Regions from separate parts of the Homo sapiens genome. Here regions 1 and 2 are each linked to region 3. Evidence: fine-mapped expression QTL. A gene starts in region 3. Each other region holds a variant in brackets. All regions are shown on one strand. Distances are between the middles of the regions.

What was found. PIP is the estimated chance that this variant, and not a neighbour inherited with it, causes the effect. A credible set is the group of variants that fine-mapping cannot tell apart.
Region 1: its variant is the best candidate, but not a certain one, in a credible set for the expression of NUDCD3 in whole blood (TOPMed, PIP 0.57).
Region 2: its variant is the best candidate, but not a certain one, in a credible set for the expression of NUDCD3 in breast (GTEx, PIP 0.59).

The regions. Positions count from the first base shown.
Region 1 is chr7:44,364,860-44,371,834 of GRCh38, reverse strand. No RefSeq gene overlaps it. Among named protein-coding and RNA genes, the nearest start is that of CAMK2B, 43 kb to the right of the region's middle. The variant G/T (reference allele first, on the strand shown) is at 3,301.
Region 2 is chr7:44,340,266-44,347,240 of GRCh38, reverse strand. No RefSeq gene overlaps it. Among named protein-coding and RNA genes, the nearest start is that of CAMK2B, 18 kb to the right of the region's middle. The variant C/A (reference allele first, on the strand shown) is at 3,427.
Region 3 is chr7:44,487,559-44,494,368 of GRCh38, reverse strand. NUDCD3 (NudC domain containing 3) reads left to right here and starts at 3,711. Exons shown (of 6, transcript NM_015332.4): 1 at 3,711-3,960. The coding sequence starts at 3,769. RefSeq lists silencers at 1,768-1,894, 3,960-4,129.

The sequences.
Region 1 (6,975 bases), 120 kb after region 3:
GGACTACAGGAGTCCACCACCACACCTGGATAATTTTTTTGTATTTTTTACTGGAGACTGGGTTTCACCGTGTTAGCCAGGATGGTCTTGATCTCCTGACCCCATGATCCTCCCGCCTTGGCCTCCCAAAGTGCTGGGATTACAGGCGTGAACCACCGCGCCCGGCCATGGGAGACTTTTTATTACAGATTCAATCTCACTGCTCATAATTGGTTTATTCAGGTTTTCTATTTCATCTTGGGTCAATATCAGTAGGTTGTATGTGTCCAGGAATTTATCCATTTCTGCTAGGTTTTCTAATTTGTTGGCATGCAGCTGTTTGTAATAGTCTCTGATGATCCTTTGTATTTCTGTGGTATCAGTTGCAATGTCTCTTTTTTATTTCTAATTTTATTTATTTGGGTCCTTTTTTTCCTTTGATTTGTCTAGCTAATGGTTTGCCAATTTTGTTTATCTTTTCAAAAAACAAATTTTTATTTTGTTGATCTTTTATTTTTCTTAGTCTCCATTTCAGTGATTTCTGCTCTGACATTTATTGTTTCTTTTCTTGGACTAATTTGGGGTTTGGTTTGTTCTTGCTTTTCTAGTTCCTTGAGATGCATCAATAGGTTGTTTTTTGAAATCTTTCTACTTTTTTGATGTAGACATTTATTGTATAAGCTTGCCTCTTAATACTGCTTTTGCTGTGTCCCACAGGTTTTGGTATGTTGTATTTCTATTTTCATTTGTTTCAAGAACATTTTTAATTTCATTCTTAATTTCTTCATTGATCCATTGGTCATTCAGGAGCCTGTTGTTTAATTTCCATGTATTTGTACAATTTTGAAACTTCCTATTATTATTGATTTCTAGTTTTATTTTATAGTGGTCAGAAGAGATACTTGATATAATTTCAGTTCTTTTAAAATGGTTGAGACTTGTTTTGTGACCTAACATGTAGTCTGTCGTGAAGACTGTTCCATGTGCTGATGAAAAGAATGCATATTCTGCAACAGTTGGAATAAATGTTCTGTAAGTGTGAGGTTCATTTGGTCTAAAGTGCAGTTTAAATCCAGTGTTTGTTGATTTTCTGTCTAGATGATCTGTCCAGTGCTGACAGTAGGGTGTTGAAATCCCCAACTATTATTATATTGGAATATATCTCTCCCTTTAGATCTAATATTTGCTTTATATATCTGGGTGTTCTGGTGTTGAGTGTGTATATACTTAACAATTGTTATATCTTCTTGCTGAATTGATCCCTTAATCATTATATAGTGACCTTCTTTGTCACTTTTTACAGTTTTTGACTCAAAGTCTGTTTAATCTGATACAAGTATAGCTATTCCTGCTCACATTAGGTTTCCATTTGCATAGAATGTTTGTTTTTTTTCTTTCATCCCTTCACTTTCAGTCTATTTATGTCTTTACAGATGAAGTGAGTTTCTTGTTGGCAACATATAATTGACTCACTTAAAAAACCTATTCATCCGGTCTATATCTTTTAAGTAGGAAATTTAATTGTTTACATTCAAGGTTTATTATTGATAGGAGAGGACTTCTATCATTTTGTTAGTTGTTTTGTGGTTGTTTTGCATATCCTTTGTTCCTTTATTTTTTCTCTTAACTCTGTTTCATTGTGGTTTGGTGGTTTTCTGTAGTGGTAAGGTTTGATTTTTTTGTCTTTCTCCTTTGTATATCTGCTCTACCAATGAGTTTTATACTTTTGCATGTTTTCATGATAGTAGTTATTGCCTTTTTACATCCAGATGTAGAACTCCTGAGCATTTCTTGCAAGGCTGGTTTACTGGTGAATTCTTTGTTTTTACTTATCTGGGAAATACTTTATTTCTCCCTCATTTCTAAAGGGTAGCTTTTCTGGGTTAATATTCCTGGCTGGCAATTTTTTTTACTTTCAGCACTTTGAATATAACATTTTATTCTCTCCTGGCCTCTAAGTTTTCTGCAGAGAAATCACCTATTTATCTAATGGGGATTCCTCTATATGTGACTTGGTGCTTTTCTTTTACTGTTTTTAGAATTCTCTCTTTGTCTTTGACTCTTGACAGTTTGACTATAATATCCCTTGAGAAGTATCTTTTTGGGTTCAATCTATTTGGGAATATTTGAGCTTCCTGGATCTGGATGTTCATATCTCCCCCAGAATTGAGAAATTCTCAACTATTATTTCATTAATTAGGTTTTCTATACCTTTTCCCTTCTCTTCTCCTTCTGAAATTTCCATAATATAAATATGTGTTTGCTTAATGGTATTCCATAAGTCTTACAGGCTTTCTTCATTCTTATTTCTTTATTGTCCCCCTCTGACTGGGGACTTTCAAATGACCTGTCTTTAAGTTCAGTGATTCTTTCTTCTGCTTGATCAAGTCTGCTGTTGAAGCTCTCTACTGTATTTTGAATTTCATTCACTGAATTCTTTAGTTGTAGGGTTTCCATTTGGTTCTTTTTTTTTATGATTTCTATCTCTTTGTTGAATTTCTCATTCATATTGTAAATTGGTTTCCTCATTTTGTTGAATTGTCTATCTATATTTTCTTGTATTTTGTTGAGTTTCCTTAAGATCATTATTTTGAATTTGGCAATTAATTGATTTCTTTTTTATTGGGGTCTGTAGCTAGAGAGTTATTATGTACCTTTGGCGGTGTCATATTTCCTTGCTTTTTCATGTTTCTTGTGCTCCTGCACTGATGTTTGTGCATCTGTTAGGACAATAGCCACTTCCAAACTTTGTAGAGTGACTCATAGAGAAAGACTTTCACTTGCATTTGGGTTTTAGTGGGCTTGCTGGAGAGGGTGTGGTGACTCTGCTTCCAGATAGATGCAGTGATATAGTTTTCTTTGTTGAATGAAGTCTTCTTCAGCTTCATTCAATGCCAGCAGTAACTATGGACACTTCAGTGACCTAGGCTGTAGAAGTTTGTGGCAGCAGTGTAGGATGTTAATGTCCTCAGTGTCAAGGGCTTTTGAGGTCCTCCTATTCTCATTTTTTCCCCACAGTGGGGGGACCTGTCTGAGGGGTTCTCCTTTGCCATCAGGTCTGACACAGCCTACAAGCAGCTACAGTGGTGCTGATTCCAACTGCAGGTGCTCAGAGTGGCCATGGGGCTGGGATCCTAGGCTCAGCATCTGTGAACCTACTGCAGCACCTGTGCCTTGTGGTATGTGGCAGGGTTTGGTGTAGGTTGCCCACAGAGCCAATATCTGTGACTCTGTGGCAACCCCTAGCTGCTTGGGCCCAGGGGCTGGTTTATAGCTGTGATTCTACCCCTGGGGACAAAGCATAGCACTGGCCTGACTCCT[G/T]GGAAGAAGGGCTGCTTTGCAGATTTGAGCCTGAGGAGCAGAATATGGCTGCAATTCAGGAACCTGGGCCAATAGAGCTCATTGGCAACTCAGGTCCCAAAGGATGAGGCATCGTGTAGTGGTGACTCTAGACCCTGGGATGGTGGGGCTTAGCAGTATCCTAGATTCTGTGACCCCAGAATGCCAGAGCACAGCTGTCATTTGGGCCTTGGGGTGGTGGGGGACAGGAAACAAAACAGCAGTGACTCCACTCCCCAGGGAGAGGGGTGTCTCAGCAGCTCAAACTCTAGGGGGCTAGTCCAGCTCCAGGGAAGTACTTGAGTATTATGGCCTGTGGGGGGTGCGAGTGTCTCAGTTCAGCCACTGCTCTGTTTCTCTGGGACCCGGGGTACTACATAAGCTCAGCCCTGGGATGTACAACTGCTCAGCTTAGCCAGGGCACTGATTGCCCAGGGGATGGTATGCTAGTTCAGCTCAGGCCTGGGGGATATGACTATTCTGGGAGGACCAGGCACCATTTCCTGGGATGCAGGGTGCTGCTTCAACTTAGGCACCAGGAAGGTGTGATTGCTCTGAATGGCCAAGATACTGTTTTTCCAGGAGAGAGGGTAGTGCTTCAGCTCTGGCCTGGGGTAGGGAGGGGTAGGTAGAGTAGCTCCACCCTTGATCCCATGGGAAAGAGTATAACAGCTGTTTGCAGCTCAGCTTGTGGATGTTGGGCTACTAGACTGGGGTAGTTCAGTGATGACTTAGCTTCAGGGATGAAGAGGAGTTGTGGCTACTCACCCGCCGAGTAAGACACTCTAGCTGTAGTTGCAATTCCAAGATGGTGTAGCACAGTAGCTACACAGGCCACAGGGGGCGAGGCACAGTGTCAGCGTCTCCTCTGGAGGGAGCATAGGTATGTGGACTGGAGGCAGCTCCCTCAGCTGGGCTTAGTCCTTGTAAAGACTGCAGGGCACCCTACTGATGAGGTCTGTATGTGTTCGAGGTGTTGGTGGGGGTTGCTGGGATCCTCTTGCTTACCTTCTTGCTGTAGGAAGAAGTTCCTCCTGGTTCCCAGATGATCCTGGTTTGGGGATGGGGTAAGGCCCAGCATTTCTTCCTTTCTTTATTTGACTATTCCAAGTTTCTGTGCTCACCAGGGTTTCTGTTACTTCTCTGATGCACTCCAGTGCTCTCCCTGTTTTTTGTTTGTTTGATTGTTTTGTTTCATTAAAATGTTGCTATTCTGGCTTTCTTTGTGAAGGGGACAAGTGCTAGGAACTTCCAGTTGGCCATCCTGCTGATGTCACCATGTATTTTGCACTTGATCTTAGCCAAAAGGCCGAGAAGCAATCGTCACCACTTATTTTGAAACAATTATAGAGTCACCGGAAGTTGTGAAGAAATACTTCATGCACCCTTCACTCAGACTACCCCAATGGAAACATTTTATGAAGCCACAGCACAGCATCAAAACCAGAAGATTGACATCAGTACCATTTACAGAGCTTATTCTGATTCCACCAATTCTACATGCACTTGTGTGTGCGCATGTGTGCTTATAGCTGTATGCAATTTCATCACATGTAATTTTATAAAACTGCTACCACAATCAAGATACAGAACTATTTGGTAGCCAAAAGGTTCCCTCGTGCTGCCTCTTTATAGGCACGGCCCCTCATGCCCAACCCCTGGAAACCACTAATCTGATCTCCTTGGCTATAATTACATTGTTTCATGAATGTTATATAAATGGAATTATGCAATGTTTATCTTTTTGAGATTGGCTTTTTCATTCACCATAATTTCCTTGAGGTCCATTCAAGATGCTGTGTATATCATAGTTTCTTTTAATTTTTGAATAATATGCCATAGTACATGGATGAACCACAATTTGTTTAATGGCCTACCCATTGAAGGACATTTGAGTAGTTTCCAATTTTTGTCTATTACAAATAAAACTGCTGTGAATATTCATATATAGAGTTTTAAAATTGAACATAAAATTTCATTTCTTTAGGATAAATACCCAGGAGTGCAATTACTGGGTCATATGTTTAAGTATATGTTTAACTTTATAGAAAATTGTCAAACTTTTTCAGAGTGCCTCTGCCATTTTACATTCCAACCAGCAATATGTGAGCTCCAGTTTCTCTGCATCCTTGCTCACATTTGGTATTGTGATAGGCAGAAAAATGGCTCCCACAAAAGTCCACATCCTAATCCTCCAGACCTATGAAATAAGTTATGCAAGGGAGAATTTTGGTTGCAGATGGAATTAAGAGTGCTAATTAGTTGACCTTAAGAAAATATTATTCTGGATTATCTAGGTAGACCCAATATAATCACAATAATCCTTTAAATGTGGAAGAAGGAGGCAAAAGAGTGATGTGAAGTGAAAAAGACTCAACCAAGCAGCCATTGCTGGCTTTGAAGGATGATAGCCACAAGCCTCATTAAACTCATTTTGGACTTCTGACCTCCAGAACTGTAAGATAATACATCTGTGGTGTTTTAAGCCACGAAATTTGTGGTGATTTACTACAGTAACACTATGAAACTATTATAGGTACTGTCAGTATTTTTTATTTTGACTGTTCTAACAGGTGTGCGGTGATATCTTATTGTGTGATTTAATTTGCATTTTACCAATGGCTAACGATGCTGAGCATCTTGTCATGTGCTTTTTGCCATATGTATATTTTCCTTGATGAAATGTTGTGTCAAGTCTTTTGGCCATTAAATATCAAGTTTTGAGCATTCTTTATATATTTTAGATAAAAGTCCTTTGCTGGATATGTGATTTACAAATATTTTCTCCTGGTCTATAATTAGTTTGTTCATCCTTTTAACATAGTCTTTTCAGAGCAATAGCTTTTAATGTTGGTGAGGTCCAGTATATCAAATTTTCTTTTTATTCATCAAGCTTTGGTGTCAAGTCTAAAAATACCTTTGATTAGTCCTAGATCTCACAGTTTTCCTCCTATTTTTCTAGAAGTTTTATAGCTTATGTTTTACATTAAGTCTATGATCCATTTTGAGTTAATTTTTTGTATAAGGTGTGAGGTTTATTTATTTATTTATTTATTTGGCTTATGAATGTCCAGTTGTTCCAGGAGCATTTGTTGAAAAGGCTGTCATTTCTCCTCTAAACCACTTTTGCTCCTTCATCAAATATTATTTTATTATTTATTTAATTATTAATCAAATGTTTGTGTAGGTCTATTTCTGGGATCTCTGTTCTATTTCATTAATCTATGTGTCTGCTCCTCTACCAATACCACACTGTCTTTATTACCGTCGCTATATGGTAAGCCCTGACATCATGAATTTTCTTCTTTTTCATACGTTTTGGCTATTCTAGTGTCTTTCCCTTTCCATATAAATTTTAAAATAAGCTTGTCTATGTCTACAAAAAAATCTTGCTGAGATTTGGGTAAGAATTGCATTAAACCAGCTAGGCATGGTGGCTCACGGCTGTAATCACAGCACTTTGGAAGGCTGAGGCAGGAGGATTGTTTGTGGCCAGGAGTCTGAGACCATCCTGGGCAACATGGTAAAACCTTGTCTCTACAAAAAAATACAAAAAATTAGCCGGGCATAGTGGCAAGAGCCTGTAGTCCCAGCTACTCAGGAGGCTGAGGTGGGAGGATTACTTGAGCCCAGAAGGTCGAGGTCGCAGTGAGCCAT
Region 2 (6,975 bases), 150 kb after region 3:
CTTCATGATTTTGGATTTGATGATGGCTTCTTAGATATGACACCAAAGCACAAACAACAAAAGAAAAAATAAATGGACTTTATTAAAGTTAAAAACTTCAGTGCATCAAAAGACATTATCAAGAAAGTGAAAATACCACCTACAGAGTAGAAGAAAATATTTATAAATCATATATCTAAGAAAGGTTATCCAGAATACAGAAGGGGACTCCTACAACTCAACAACAAAAAGACAAACAATCCAATCAAAATATGGGCAAAGGACTCGAATAGACATTTCTCTAAAGTAGATATACAAATTTCCAATAAGCACATAAAAATATACTTTGTATCATTAGTTAATAGGAAGTGCAAAAACCACAATGAGATACACCTCACACATAGTAGAATGGCTGTACTTAGGAAAGAAAAGAATGTAAGTATTGAGGAGGCCATGGAGAAACTGGAGACCTCATACGTCACTGCTGGGAATGTAAAATGGCGCAGCTGCTATGGAAAACAGTTTGGTGGTTCCTCAGAGGTTAAACATAGAATTACCACTCCTAGGTATATCCCCCAAAGAATTGAAAACAGGATTCAAACATATACTCGTATGCCATTGTTCACTGCAGCATTATTTGCAATAGCCAAAAGTAGGAAAGAACCCCAATGTTAACCAGCTGATTGAGGAATAAACAAAATGTGATATTTACACAGACAATGGAATATCATTCAGTCTTAACAAGGCACAAAGTTCTGATACATGCTACAATATGGATGAACCTTGAAAACATTGTGCTAAGAGAAATAAGCCAGACACAAAAGGACAAATAATGTCTGATTCCACTTACCTGAAATATCTAGAATAGGCCAGTTCATAGAAACAGAAAGAAAGGGGAGTTATTACTTAATGGCTATAGATTATAGGAGATTATAGGGGAGTTATTACTTAATGGCTATAGAATCTCTGGGGTAATGAAGAAGTTTTGGAAATAGTTGGTGGTGATGATTGCACAACATTGTGTGAATGTACTTAATGCCGCTGAATTGTACACTTAAAATTTGTTAAAATCACAAATCGTGTTTTTTATATATATATACACACACACACTTCTCTGTATGTATACACACACACATATGTATACACAATTTTTTTAAAAGTCAAAATTTTTTCTATGCATTTTGCCTCCAGGGGATAAAAAGATTGATTGGACAAGTTAATTAGCCTCTTTAAGCCTCAGTTTCCACATCTGTAAAATGGGAATAGATATAGTACCTAGCCTTGCTGTAAAAGCTTGCTGTAAAAATCAAATGACATAATATATGTAGTCACATAGCACAAAGTCTGGCACATAGTAAGAGCTCAATATGGGGGAGCTGTCATAATTATTTTCATGTGTTCACTTTACTCTGTCTAGAAACACATTCAATTTGGTGCCATCTATAAAATTACCCTTCCTCGAGTTTCCATTTCCAGCTATAATGGAGTATTTGGAGCAGATCACTGACCCCACTGAGAACAACTAGAAAATCCAGATTAAAAAAACTGGTTTGAAGGCACTGGACAACTGCAGATAACCAGGGCTTAAGGAACCAAGTTTCCAAATAGAAGAGAATTGGAGAGAGATGAGCTGATATTCTGCACATCATTTACCCCTCCAGGTGATGACCAGTTCTTAGAGAGGCTAGGAATCTGAGCATAGGACTATTACTTTAAGAGGCAGAGAAGCCAGCAGATCTTTCAGCAATTTCATGGAGAAGAGAATAAAAAATTAATTATAGAGCTGACAGGATAGCCAGCACCCAAGAGGCCAGGAGCCCCAAACTCAGAGGTTTCCCTTGAAGCATTTGCCCATGTATTAAATACACATGGTGAGGAGCTAATAAGAAAGCCAGTGAAAAGATGAAGTTTTTCTATGATCTCATGGTTATGAAGAGACAAAAATGGGAGTTCAGGACCCTAGCTGGGGTCTCAGGAGGGCAACACCCTAGGGGTGGGCATGAAGCAAAGAGAGAATGAGATGTAAAAGGACTGCAATCCTGCCTCATGCTGCTTTGGATGAAGGTAGTCTGCTCACACTGTAGCTGCCCCAAGGATAAGGTGAATGGTCTCTGGAGGAAGTTAATGGAATCCAGAGCTTCTATAAATTGTTGCACACTATGTCCAACATTCAATTAAAAAGTAATAAGCATACCAAGAAAAAAAAAGGGCAAAATTCCCAGGTGATACAGATATTAGAGGTATCAGACACAGACTTTAAAACAGCTATTAATATTTTAGAGAAAACAGGTAACAAGATAGACAATTTCACTAAAGAAAAAATATATAAATCTCAGAGTTGAAAACACAGTAGCTGATATTTAGAATACAACAGATGTAAGAATGGATGGAATACAACAGGAGACAGGACTAATGGAAGTAGACTGGTAGGATTAGTAGAAGTAGAAGAGGATTAGTAGAAGACAGGACAACAGAAAATATCAAGACTGATACACAAAGAATTTTTAAAAGATGAAAAAATAGAGAAAAGAGTATAAGAGATATGTGGAACATGTTGAAAAGTTCTAATATATGTACAACTGAAGACCCAGAAGGAGAAAAGAAAGGTGATGGAGCAGAAGCAATATTAGAGTATGATCATTTTAGAAACAAATTAATGCCTTCAACCCACAAACTCAAGATACTCAGTAACCCCAAGCAGGATAAATACAAAGGCAATCTTAAATGTTAAAAGAAGCCAGAGGAAAATAGGGTAACCACAGGAGTAACAATCAGACTGATGACAGATTTTTCAAAACAAATTACTGGAGTCAGAAGGAAAGAAATAACATTTTTAAACTGCTGGAAAAAATCACTGCCAACCTGGAATTCTACAGAATTCTATAGCCAAAATATTCTTCAAAAATAAAGGTAAAATGAAGATTTTTTAGGGAAAAAAATGTTTTAATGTGTACAGGGAGTTCTTCTGGAATCTTGTCATCAAGGGTAACCACTGAAATAATAATAAAATGATGTCAATAGTAAGTAATAACATAATAGTAAATAAATGCATAACTAATAGAATGATAGGTATGGAGAATGGAATAATAAAAAATGTTTAATCCAAAGAAAGGCAAAAAAGAGGAAAAGGAATATAAAACAGGTGGGACAAAGAAAAAAATTCACATAGTAGGTATAAACTAAAATATATCAGGAAATACATTTACATGTAAATGGACTAAACACCCCAAGTAAAAGACTAAGATAGACTGAATGAAAACAAAATAAAACCAAAAAAAATTAAACTATATGTTGCTACAAGAGACACATCTTAAGTATAAGGATGCAGAAAAGTTGAAGGTAAAGGAATGAAAAAATATAACCATGTGTATGTTGTGGGGCCACTTTCTGACTTGATGATTCACTGGAAGGACTCACTGGCCTCACAAGAGCTGTTATACTCATGAT[C/A]GCACAGTTTTTCTTTTTTTTTTTTTTTTTGAGGCGGAGTCTCACTCTGTCGCCCAGGCTGGAGTGCAGTGGCGCGATCTCGGATCACTGCAACCTCCGCCTCCCGGGTTCAAGCACTTCTTCTGCCTCAGCCTCCCAAGTAGCTGGGACTACAGGCATGTGCCACTACGCCTGGCTAATTTTTGTATTTTTAGCAGAGACAGAGTTTCACTATATTGGCCAGGCTGGTCTCGAACTCCTGTCTTTGTGATCTGCCCATCTGGGCCTCTCACAGTGCTGAGATTACAGGCATGAGCCACTGCACCTGGCCCACACAGTTTCTTAAAGCAGGAGGTTACAGATTAAAATCACCTAATGGAAAAGGCACATGAGCAAAGTCCAGGGGAAAGTGAGCACAAGCATCCAAATGTCCCCTCCTAGTGAAGCTGCTTGGAGTATGCTTAATTCTCCCAGCAACTATGTGCAATCACATACTAAGTACTGCCAATCGAGGAGGCTCATTTGAGCCTCGATGTCCAGAGTTTTTACGGAGTGTCAGTCACATAGGCAGGAATTGTCTGCATGACTGACCTTAGCTACTCAGCCCCTAAGAGGCCAAAGTGATACAGCATAGCCCAGGACCTCAGACACACATCACAAAAGCCACATTGTTAGCATAAGCTATCTGGTTTTACTGGTTTATAGGACTGCCACAACAAAATGCCAGAGACTGAGGGGCTTAAACAACAGGAATTTATTTTCTCACAGTTCTGGAGGCTGGAAGTCCAAGACCCAAGTGTCAGCAGGGTTGGTTCCTCCTGAGGCCTCTCTCTTGGGTTGCAGGTGGCCGTCTTCTTGCTTTGTCTGCATGTGGTCTTTGCTCTTTGTGTCTGTGTGTCCTACTCTCCTCTCTTAGAAAGGACATCTGTCAGATTGGATTAAGGCTCACCCTAGGGCCTCATTTAACTTAATTACCATTTTTTTTTTTTTTTTGAGATGGAGTCTTGCTCTGTCTCCCAGGCTGGAGTTTAATGGGGCAATCTTGGCTCATTGCAACCTCCACCTCTCAGGTTCAAGCAATTCTCCTGCCTCAGCTTCCAGAGTAGCTGGGATTACAGGTGCCCGCCACCACACCCAGCTAATTTTTGTATTTTTAGTAGAGATGGGGTTTCACCTGTTGGTCAGGCTTGTCTCGAACTCTTGATCTCAGGTGATCCACCTGCCTCGGCCTCCCAAAGTGCCGGGGTTACAGGCATGATTAATTATCTCTTTAATGGCCCTATCCCCACATACAGTCACATTCTAAGGTGCTGGGAGTTAGGGTTTCAACCTATGAGTTTTGGGGGAACAAAATTCAGTCCATAACACTGACTTAATGGATACAGCATGGCCCAAGGTCTCAGGCAAACAAAAACAAGCTTTCAAGCAGGATATTCCAAGGGTTGCCTCTCTGGAACCTACCAAGGGGAAGTCCATTCTTGGCATGTGCAGGCCCTGGACCAACCAAGCCTGATGAGTTAACCTTTTTCTGCACACCATGAAAGCACTAATCAAAAGAAAGTTAATGCAGCTGTACTATCACTAAATGAAATAGACATTAAGAAAATAGGACAACTGTAGAGGAGGGGGAACATAAAGTGATAAGGTGGACTCACCAAAAATATACAATGTAAAAATCTATATGAACTGCACATAACTTCATATTATATAAAGTAAAAACTGACAATGCTAAAAGGAGAAGGAAAAATTGGCAATCACAGTGGAAGACTTTAACCCTCCTCTTATAATAAATAAGAGAACAGCAGACAAAAAACTCAGCAAGTAGAATACCTGCCTAACGTGATGAACAAACTTGACATATTTGACAGCTGTAGAATGCCATACCCAATCATGACAGCGCACGCACGCTTTTCTGATGCATATGGAACATTACAAGAATTGATCATATGGTTGAGCCATAAGTTTCAACACATTTTCAAAAGATTAGAATTATTCAGATCATGTCCTAGGAATAGAAGGGAGCTTTCTTATTCTGTTAAAAAAGTATCTATAAAAAACCTTCTTAATGATGAAATATTTAAAACCTTCCCCCTGAGATTTGGCATGAGCTGAGGATACCCACAATACTACTCGACATTGTCCTGGAGGGCCCAGCAACCACAAAAGGCAAGGCGAGCAGACCTAAAGGGAGGAGAGGAAGAAAGAAAAGTCATTATTTACAGATGACATCATTGTGTGCATCAACTATGCAAAAGAATTTCAGGCAACTTCTTAGAATTAATATGCAAAATTGGCAAGGTTGTTGGCTATAATGTTGCTGTGGATGGAATTGTGTCCTCCCAAAATTCCTGTGTTGAAGCCTTAACCCCCAGTGTGATTCAGTTTGGAGTGGGGCCTTTAGGAAGTAATTGAGGTTAAACGAGGTCATATGGGTGCCATCCTAATCTGATAGGATTGGTGGCCTTCTAAGAAGAGGAAGAAAGATCTCTCTGTCCCCATACACAGACAATGGGTAGCCAGATGACAGCCCTCTGCAAGCCAGGAAGAGGGCCCTCACCAGAACCCAACCATGCAGGCACACTGATCCTGAACTTCCAGCCTCCAGAACTGTGGGAACACTAATCTCTGCTGTTTAAGCCACCCTGTCTGTGGTATTTTGTTATGGTAGCCTGAGCTGACTAGTACAAATGTCGATATTTTTAAAATTGTGCTTATATGTATCAGCAACAAACAATAAAAAAAGATATAAAAATTACCATTTATTAGCTGGGCATGGTGGCTCATGCCTATAATCCCAGCACTTTGGGAGGCCGAGGTGGGTGGAACACCTGAGGTCAGGAGTTTGAAACCAGCCTGGCCAACATGGTGAAATCCCGTCTCTACTAAAAATACAAAAATTAGCCAGGCATGGTGGTGGGCACCTGTAATCCCAGCTACTTGGGAGGCTGAGGCAGGAGAATCGCTTGAATCCGGGAGGCAGAGGTTGCAGTGAGCCGAGATCGCGCCACTGCACTTCAGCCTGGGCGACAGAACGAGACTCTATCTCAAAAAAAAAAAAAAATCATTTATAATAGTGTTCAAAACCAACAAATACCTAGTAGTAAATCTAACAAAAGACATGCAAAACGTTTACACAGGAAATTATTTACTGAGATAAGTACATCTAAATAAGTGGAAGGATATATCCCATATTTGTGGATTGCAAGATGCAATATTAAATAATTTTGATTCTCTGGAATCTGAGCTATAGTTTTAGTGCACACACACCCCACCCCCAAATCCTAGAAGCGTTTTGATGGTGTGTGTATGTGCACGCGCTTGTGTGCGTGTGTGTGTGTGTGTGTGTAAATGACATACTGATTCTAAAATCTACTTGAAATTGCAAAGAACCAAGAATAGGTAAGATAAATTTGAAGAAGGAGAAGGAAGAGGAGGTAGAGGAGGAGGAAGAGGACAAGGATGAGAAGGGGAGGAGGAGCAACATCAAAGCTGGAGGACTTATACTACCATGCATCTAGACTCACTGTAAAACTACAGGAATCATCCAGTGTGATCTTGGTCAAGTACAGA
Region 3 (6,810 bases):
CTGAGACTGTGCCACTACACCCCAGCCTGGGCGACAGAGCGAGACTCTGTTTCAAAAAAAAAAAAAAGATATTTTATTTACTTTTTGAATAGGTAATGCATGTATATGGTATCAAATACAAAAGTAAGTTTTTCTCCTGTTTTATAGTGTTTCCCTCAATTTCCCTTCTCCAGATGCAGCGTCTGTTCCATTTCTTCCTTTAGGTGCTAAAGAAAATTATTCAAAACTTTGAATATAGCAAGAAGATGACTGCATGTGCTTCCAGTTATACTGAGGAATTATATAACAGGCTCACCCGAGATTCATTAATTCTCTAGGGCAGTGATTCTCAGAGTGTAGTATGTGGCCCTGGGGGGCCTCCAAGGTAAAAATAACAATACTATGATGTTATTTGCTTTTTTACCATGTTGACATTTGCAATGATGGTGCAAAAGCAATGGCAGGTAAAACTGCAAGTGTCTCAGCAGGAATCAAGGCAGGCCATTGTCCTAGCTTCCTGCTGTCACAAAGTACCATAGACTGGGTGGCTTAAACAACACATGTTTATTCTCTCACAGTCTTGGAGGCCAGAAATCCAAGACCAAGGTGTTGGTATCTGGTGAGAATTCTCTTCCTAGCTTGAAGCAATCTCACTGTGTCCTCACATGGCCTTTCTTCTGCATGTGTGCAGAGTGAGATCTCTAGTGTCTCCTTCTCCTCTTATGAGGATACCAGTTCCATTGGGTTAAGGTCCCACCCTTATAACCTCATTTAACCTTTAAGTATCTTTTAAAGGCCCTTCTAACCACCAATGTGACTCCAAATATAGTCCCATTGAGGACTGGGGCTTCAACATATGAATCTGGTGGGGGGCAGGCACATTCAGTCCATAACGGCACCAAACTCGACTAGTATGCACTGCCTTACACTTACAGGTTAAAAATGTTCAGTTTCACTTAAGAATGCTCCTGATAGCATTTAATTATTAATTTTATTAAAAGTTGTTTTATTAAAAGTTCTCCACTTGAGAACAAGTCTTTTTAATAGTGCATGATTAAAAGAGAAGTACACATAAGACATGTCTGCCTCATACTGAAGCAAAATGGTTGCACTGATGCAAAGCACTTGTGTGATTGAGTTGCCAATTGAACAAGTCACAGAGCATCATTTTTACTTGAATGACAGAATGAAGTGAGCCTGTCTCTTCAAGGAAAATAATTGATTGTATCTACTTCCAATAATAAAGTTCAAGTTTTTAAGCTAAAATTAGAATTCAAAAAACCCATATCCCGCTTCCATGAGCTTGAGTGCTTGTCAATAAAGACAGACTTCTCTGATGAGTTTAGTGGTAATTCTAACAAATGTTATTTTTTGATATTATATAATGAAATGATATTAGAAACCAAGATCTGGGGGCAAGATATGCTCGTTGCATAAAACGAGTGAACATTTGGAAGAGCTGCATAACACAGTGGACCAACATTTTCAAATGACTAATTAATACATGATGGTATAAAATCATGCATTTATTAACGATCCATTCAAAGTGAAAGACCAATCGATATTAATGTAACAGAGTATGAAAAGTCTATAGATACAGTTTTAGATTCCATATGGCAAGTAACCTTTAAGAAACTACCAGTTACAGGGCTGGGTGCAGTGGCTCACACCTATAATTCCAGCACTTTGGGAGGCTGAGAGGGGAGGATCGCTTGAGCCCATGAGTTTCAGACCAGCCTGAACAATGTAGGCCCAACCTCGTCTCTATAAAAATAATTTAAAAATTAGCCAGGCACAGTGGCATGTGCTTGTAGTTCCAGCTACTCAGAAGGCTGAGGCAGGAGGATTGCTTGAGTTCAAGAGTTCAAGGCTACAGTTAGTTATGATCACATCGTTACATTCCAGCCTGGGTGACAGAGGGAGACCCTGCCTCTTAAAAATAAAAAAAATAGAAACTATCGCTTGTAGAAGAATTTTGATGTCATTTTAAAGACAAATAGCCACATTTATTTGAAAAGACAAAATATTCCTCTCATTTGCAACTGTCTGTGTGAGGTTGCATGTTTTCATATACTTCAATGAAAACAACATAATGCAAATTATGTTGCAGTGAATGCAGATGTGAGAATCTTGTGGTCTTCTTTTTTTTTGTGGAGACGGAGTCTAGCTCTGTCGCCCAGGCTGGAATGCAGTGGTGTGATCTCGGCTCACTGCAACCTCTGCCTCCCGGGTTCAAGCGATTCTCCTGCCTCAGCCTCCAGAGGAGCTGGGATTACAGGCACCTGCCATCACGCCTAGCTAATTTTCGTATTTTTAGTAGAGACAGGGTTTCACTGTGTTGGCCAGGCTGGTCTCGAACTCCTGATCCTCCCGCCTCGGCCTCCCAAAGTGCTGGGATTACAAGCATGAGCTACTGTGCCGGCCAAATCTTGCTGTCTTCTAGTAGGCTCATTAAAGAGATTTGCAAAAATGTAAAACTATGTTACTCCTCTCACTGAACTTTTATTGCTTTGAAGAACATTATTTTTTGCATAAAAGTATGTTAACATGTAATGTGTTTTATGGTCATTTAAAAATGATTAAATAAATATTTAAACATTTTATGTTTTAATTTCTAATGTGGTAAATATTGATAAGCATAACCCATATCAACAAATGTTCTTTGGAATGTTCAACAAATTTTAAGAGGATTAATGGTCCCTAAATCAAGAGTTTCAGAACCACTGTTCTAGGGCAATTTACCTGAGTTGGATTTTATTTACAATTCATTAAAGCTTATACACTATGAAGACATGTTAACTTGCATGTTTTAATCTAGAAGAGGTGCAAATCATTTCTATACACTAGAAATGATAATCTATGGTTTTATCATCTTGTAGAACACCAGCCAGCTTTGTATCCAACCTAATCTTACTCTAATGCTTTGTCAAAATGTTTAATCTCCACTTCCTCAAAATGCTTTTGAACCAGCTTTACCATATCATTGTTAATTTGCTGAAGAAATCTTGGATATGTGTTCATGATATATTTGTATGAGTGTCATGCTTTTTACTTTTTTAAGATTATACTTTGACAGACACTAACAACATATGTATATATGACGTATATATGTATATACATACTATACACACACATACACGTACATATTTCACAACGATGGCATACGGATTCTCTATTCTGAATCTAGCTCTTTCCACTTAATATACGTTGAATGCACTCTTTATTTTCTTCGTCATCTTGACTTTCTTCTGATGCAACGCCCTGAGTTTAACTCACAGATCTGTTAATAAGAAACCCATACATCCCACATATACGCATTTTCCCGTCTCTGGCTCACTAACAAAAAGCTTACCCTAGCCCCATCTTTAACCATAGGTTCCAAATACCCAGGCTGGAATTCAACACAGAAATAAGAAAGGATCCACAGACAACGTGACAAAAATCCGAGCAGTCACGTGACACTGCACGCCCCATAATTTTTTTCCGCCCGCTTCAAACATGGCGGTCAAGCCCTCGCAGCGCAGCAGAAGCCACGGGCTTCCTTCCGCGTAGGAACCTCCTTGCTGCCCTTGTCGGGCTCTTTTGTCTAAGACCACCTCAAGGCAAAGCCCGTGGGGCAGCTGGGTCTGGGGAAAACAGCCCGGGGCCGCGGGGGCCGAACGAGCACGGACCGGAAGTTCCGCAGCCGCGCCGTCCGGCGGAGCCGTTGGCTGCGGACGCCGGAAGTGGCCAGTCGGCAGGTCTGAGGCGGCGCTGTGTGTGTGAAGCGTACCTAGGGCGGGAGGCGACATGGAGACAGGGGCGGCCGAGCTGTATGACCAGGCCCTTTTGGGCATCCTGCAGCACGTGGGCAACGTCCAGGATTTCCTGCGCGTTCTCTTTGGCTTCCTCTACCGCAAGACAGACTTCTATCGCTTGCTGCGCCACCCATCGGACCGCATGGGCTTCCCGCCCGGGGCCGCGCAGGCCTTGGTGCTGCAGGTGAGGCGGGCGGGCCTGCGGTCTGGGGAGCCGCCGCCCCCGGCCTGCCCTGACTCCTGGCGCCCGCTCCTCCAAGCTCTCCCAGCCTGTTTCCTCCTTTTCCTGGTGTCCTGGGGTTGAGCTTGTGAGAATGGCTTCAGTAATTTGAAGCGCGGATTGGATGTCAGCTTATTCCGCTGAGGTGTTCGCTCCGGACGTCCTGAGGTTTCAGAAGTAGTAAGCCGACTGTTAAGAGCCCTACTCAGCACCCGCCAGCGCGTACCCCTCACGGTGCTGGGGGCCGCTAGTCAGGGAGCGAAATCCATGCAGGCCAGACAGAAGGAAGGACATTTACAGCAACAGAAACGTGCATGCCCCAGAACTACCAAAGACTTGAGCTGGCGGGGATGACGGAGGCATTGTGTTGATCAATGGGTGTGGTCGCTTGTTTGAAATGTGACTTCCCAGGTCAAAGACTGTCAATGTAGTGCTTATTAAAATTTCTATTTGAGCTTAATTCCGTACCCTCCAGGTTAAGTTTATTGTATGTTGGAAACGCTGTCAATACTCATTCAGTGAAGTTGACTGGGCACTTTTGAATGTAGTGGTAAGCAACCTTTTGCTGAATGTAGTTTACACTCTTAGTTGCCGCAGGTGAGGGTGATACGGGTGTTTAAGTAATGGTTTCTCTCTCCTTGTGACACAGTTAAAGAGAGAAAACCCAGAAAGTAATAGAAAACTTTTTAAGGGCAATTATTTGATGGAGCCCATTGTAAAGAAAGGAAATAGAAATGATGGTTGAGAAGTGAAGTTTTTATAAGAGAGGTGGGACTTCTGATGAGATTAAAAGAAACTATTCAGCCAAGTATTAAGCCTATTTGTAGAAACCCAAGAAGATAGAAATGCTGATGATACCTCCCTCAGTTCTCTAGATGTTACAGTTTATAAAATGCTTCAGATGTTTCCTCCTGAAGTCTTAATGCATGCTGCAGGTTGGTAAGATGTTACTTTCCTCAGCAGAAGCCAAAGCTTTGAATGTCTTGGTAGCTACCAGGGTAATAGGGCCAAACGAGGAATGGGGTTCCATTAGGATTCAATTTCAGAACTTAAGGCTATTCCTCGTCCTTGTCAGTGGCATAAGTGCCATCTTAGTGATGAGAGAGCTGTTGGAGGTGGCCTTTAGCAGGATCTTATGGCAGGTTAATGAAGTCTTGCCATTTGATCTTCAGTGTCTCTGTGAAACAGATAAGTTTCAAGTTTACGTACCAATTCAGCAAGGTTAAGTGATTTGACCAAGAACACACAGCCAGTTCACCGTAGAGCTGAAACTAAAAATTTCATTTTGTGGATTCCAAATCTTCCTGTTCTGTTGTTTAACCATTCCATAGTAGGATGAGAACACTTTTGTCTAGATTGATTGTAGTTTGCAGAAAGATGTGGAGGAGAAAGGAGTATATACTGAGTAATATGTATAGTATCAGATGTTTTATATTCTGGGGTCGTTATCTTATTTAACCCTTAATATAACCTGAGAGGTTGGTCTTTGTTTCACAGATGAACTGACAGAGCACTCATTAACCTGGTAACTCATTTACCTGGTAACACCTCTTACAAGACACTTCCATAGGTTAGGATTTGGTGACCAGTCTAATGAAGTAGTGGAGATGGGGAGCAGGGATGGAGGAAGGGGAGGGATGGGTCAAAGATGATCCAAGGTTTCAACTTGGGTGACTGGAATAGTGATAATGCGTTAACTGAACTGTCACCTGGGTTTAGGGGAAAAAGTTCAGTTTTAGACAGGTTGAACTTGAAGTTGCAGGTAGGAGTCCCTGCCCATAGGCTATTGGAATTACTGGACTAGATCTTTTGGGAGCTAGAGCAACTGGAGTGGTCCGAGGGAGAGAGAAGAGCCAAAGGTGAAGAACAGGCCTTGGGGAATAATCTTGGTGGAGAGCAATAAGTTTCACAGAAACCAAGGGGACAACAGTCTCCAGCAGATGCTTAAGAGAGGTGTCATGTTTTCTGGAAGTGGTTCTCAACCATCAGCATCGCTTAAGGAACTTTTTTCTTTCTTTTTTTTTTTTTTTTTTTCCTGGAGATGGAGTCTCACTCTGTCGCCCAGGCTGGAGTGCAGTGGCATGATCTCAGCTCACTGCAACCTCCGCCTCCTGGGTTCAAGCAATTCTCCTGCCTCAGCCTCTCGAGTAGCTGGGACTGCAGGTGTGCGCCACCACGCCCGGCTGATTTTTGTATTTTTAGTAGAGATGGGGTTTCATCATGTTGGCGAGACTGGTCTCAAACTCCTGACCTTGTGTTCTGCCTGCCTCGGCCTCCTAAAGTGCTAGGATTACAGGTGTGAGCCACTGCGCCTGGCCAAGGAACTTTTAAAAGCACATATTCCTGGATATTTTGGTTGGGTAGATCAGGGTGAATCCTGGGAACCTGTTCTTTTTTTTATTTTTTTATTTTTTATTTTTGAGATGGAGTCTCATTCTGTTGTCCAGGCTGGAGTGCAGTGGCGCAATCTTGGCTCACTGCACCTCCTCCTCCCAGGTTCAAGTGATTCTCCTGCCTCAGCCTCCCGAGTAGCTGGGTTTACAGGCATGTACCACCATGCCTAGAGAATTTTTGTATTTTTAGTAGTAGAAATGGGGTTTCACCGTGTTGGCCAGGCTGGTCTTGAACTCCTGACCTCAGGTGATCACCCGCCTCAGCCTCCCAAAGTGCTGGGATTACAGACATGAGCTACTGCACCTGGCTGGAACCTGTTCTTTTATCCACAAAAGCTCATTTGACAGGAGGTTTGTAAAGGTGATTTCAGTATTGACAAGGGTTTTATTGTGGGGTGGGACAACACTGAATGAGACTGAG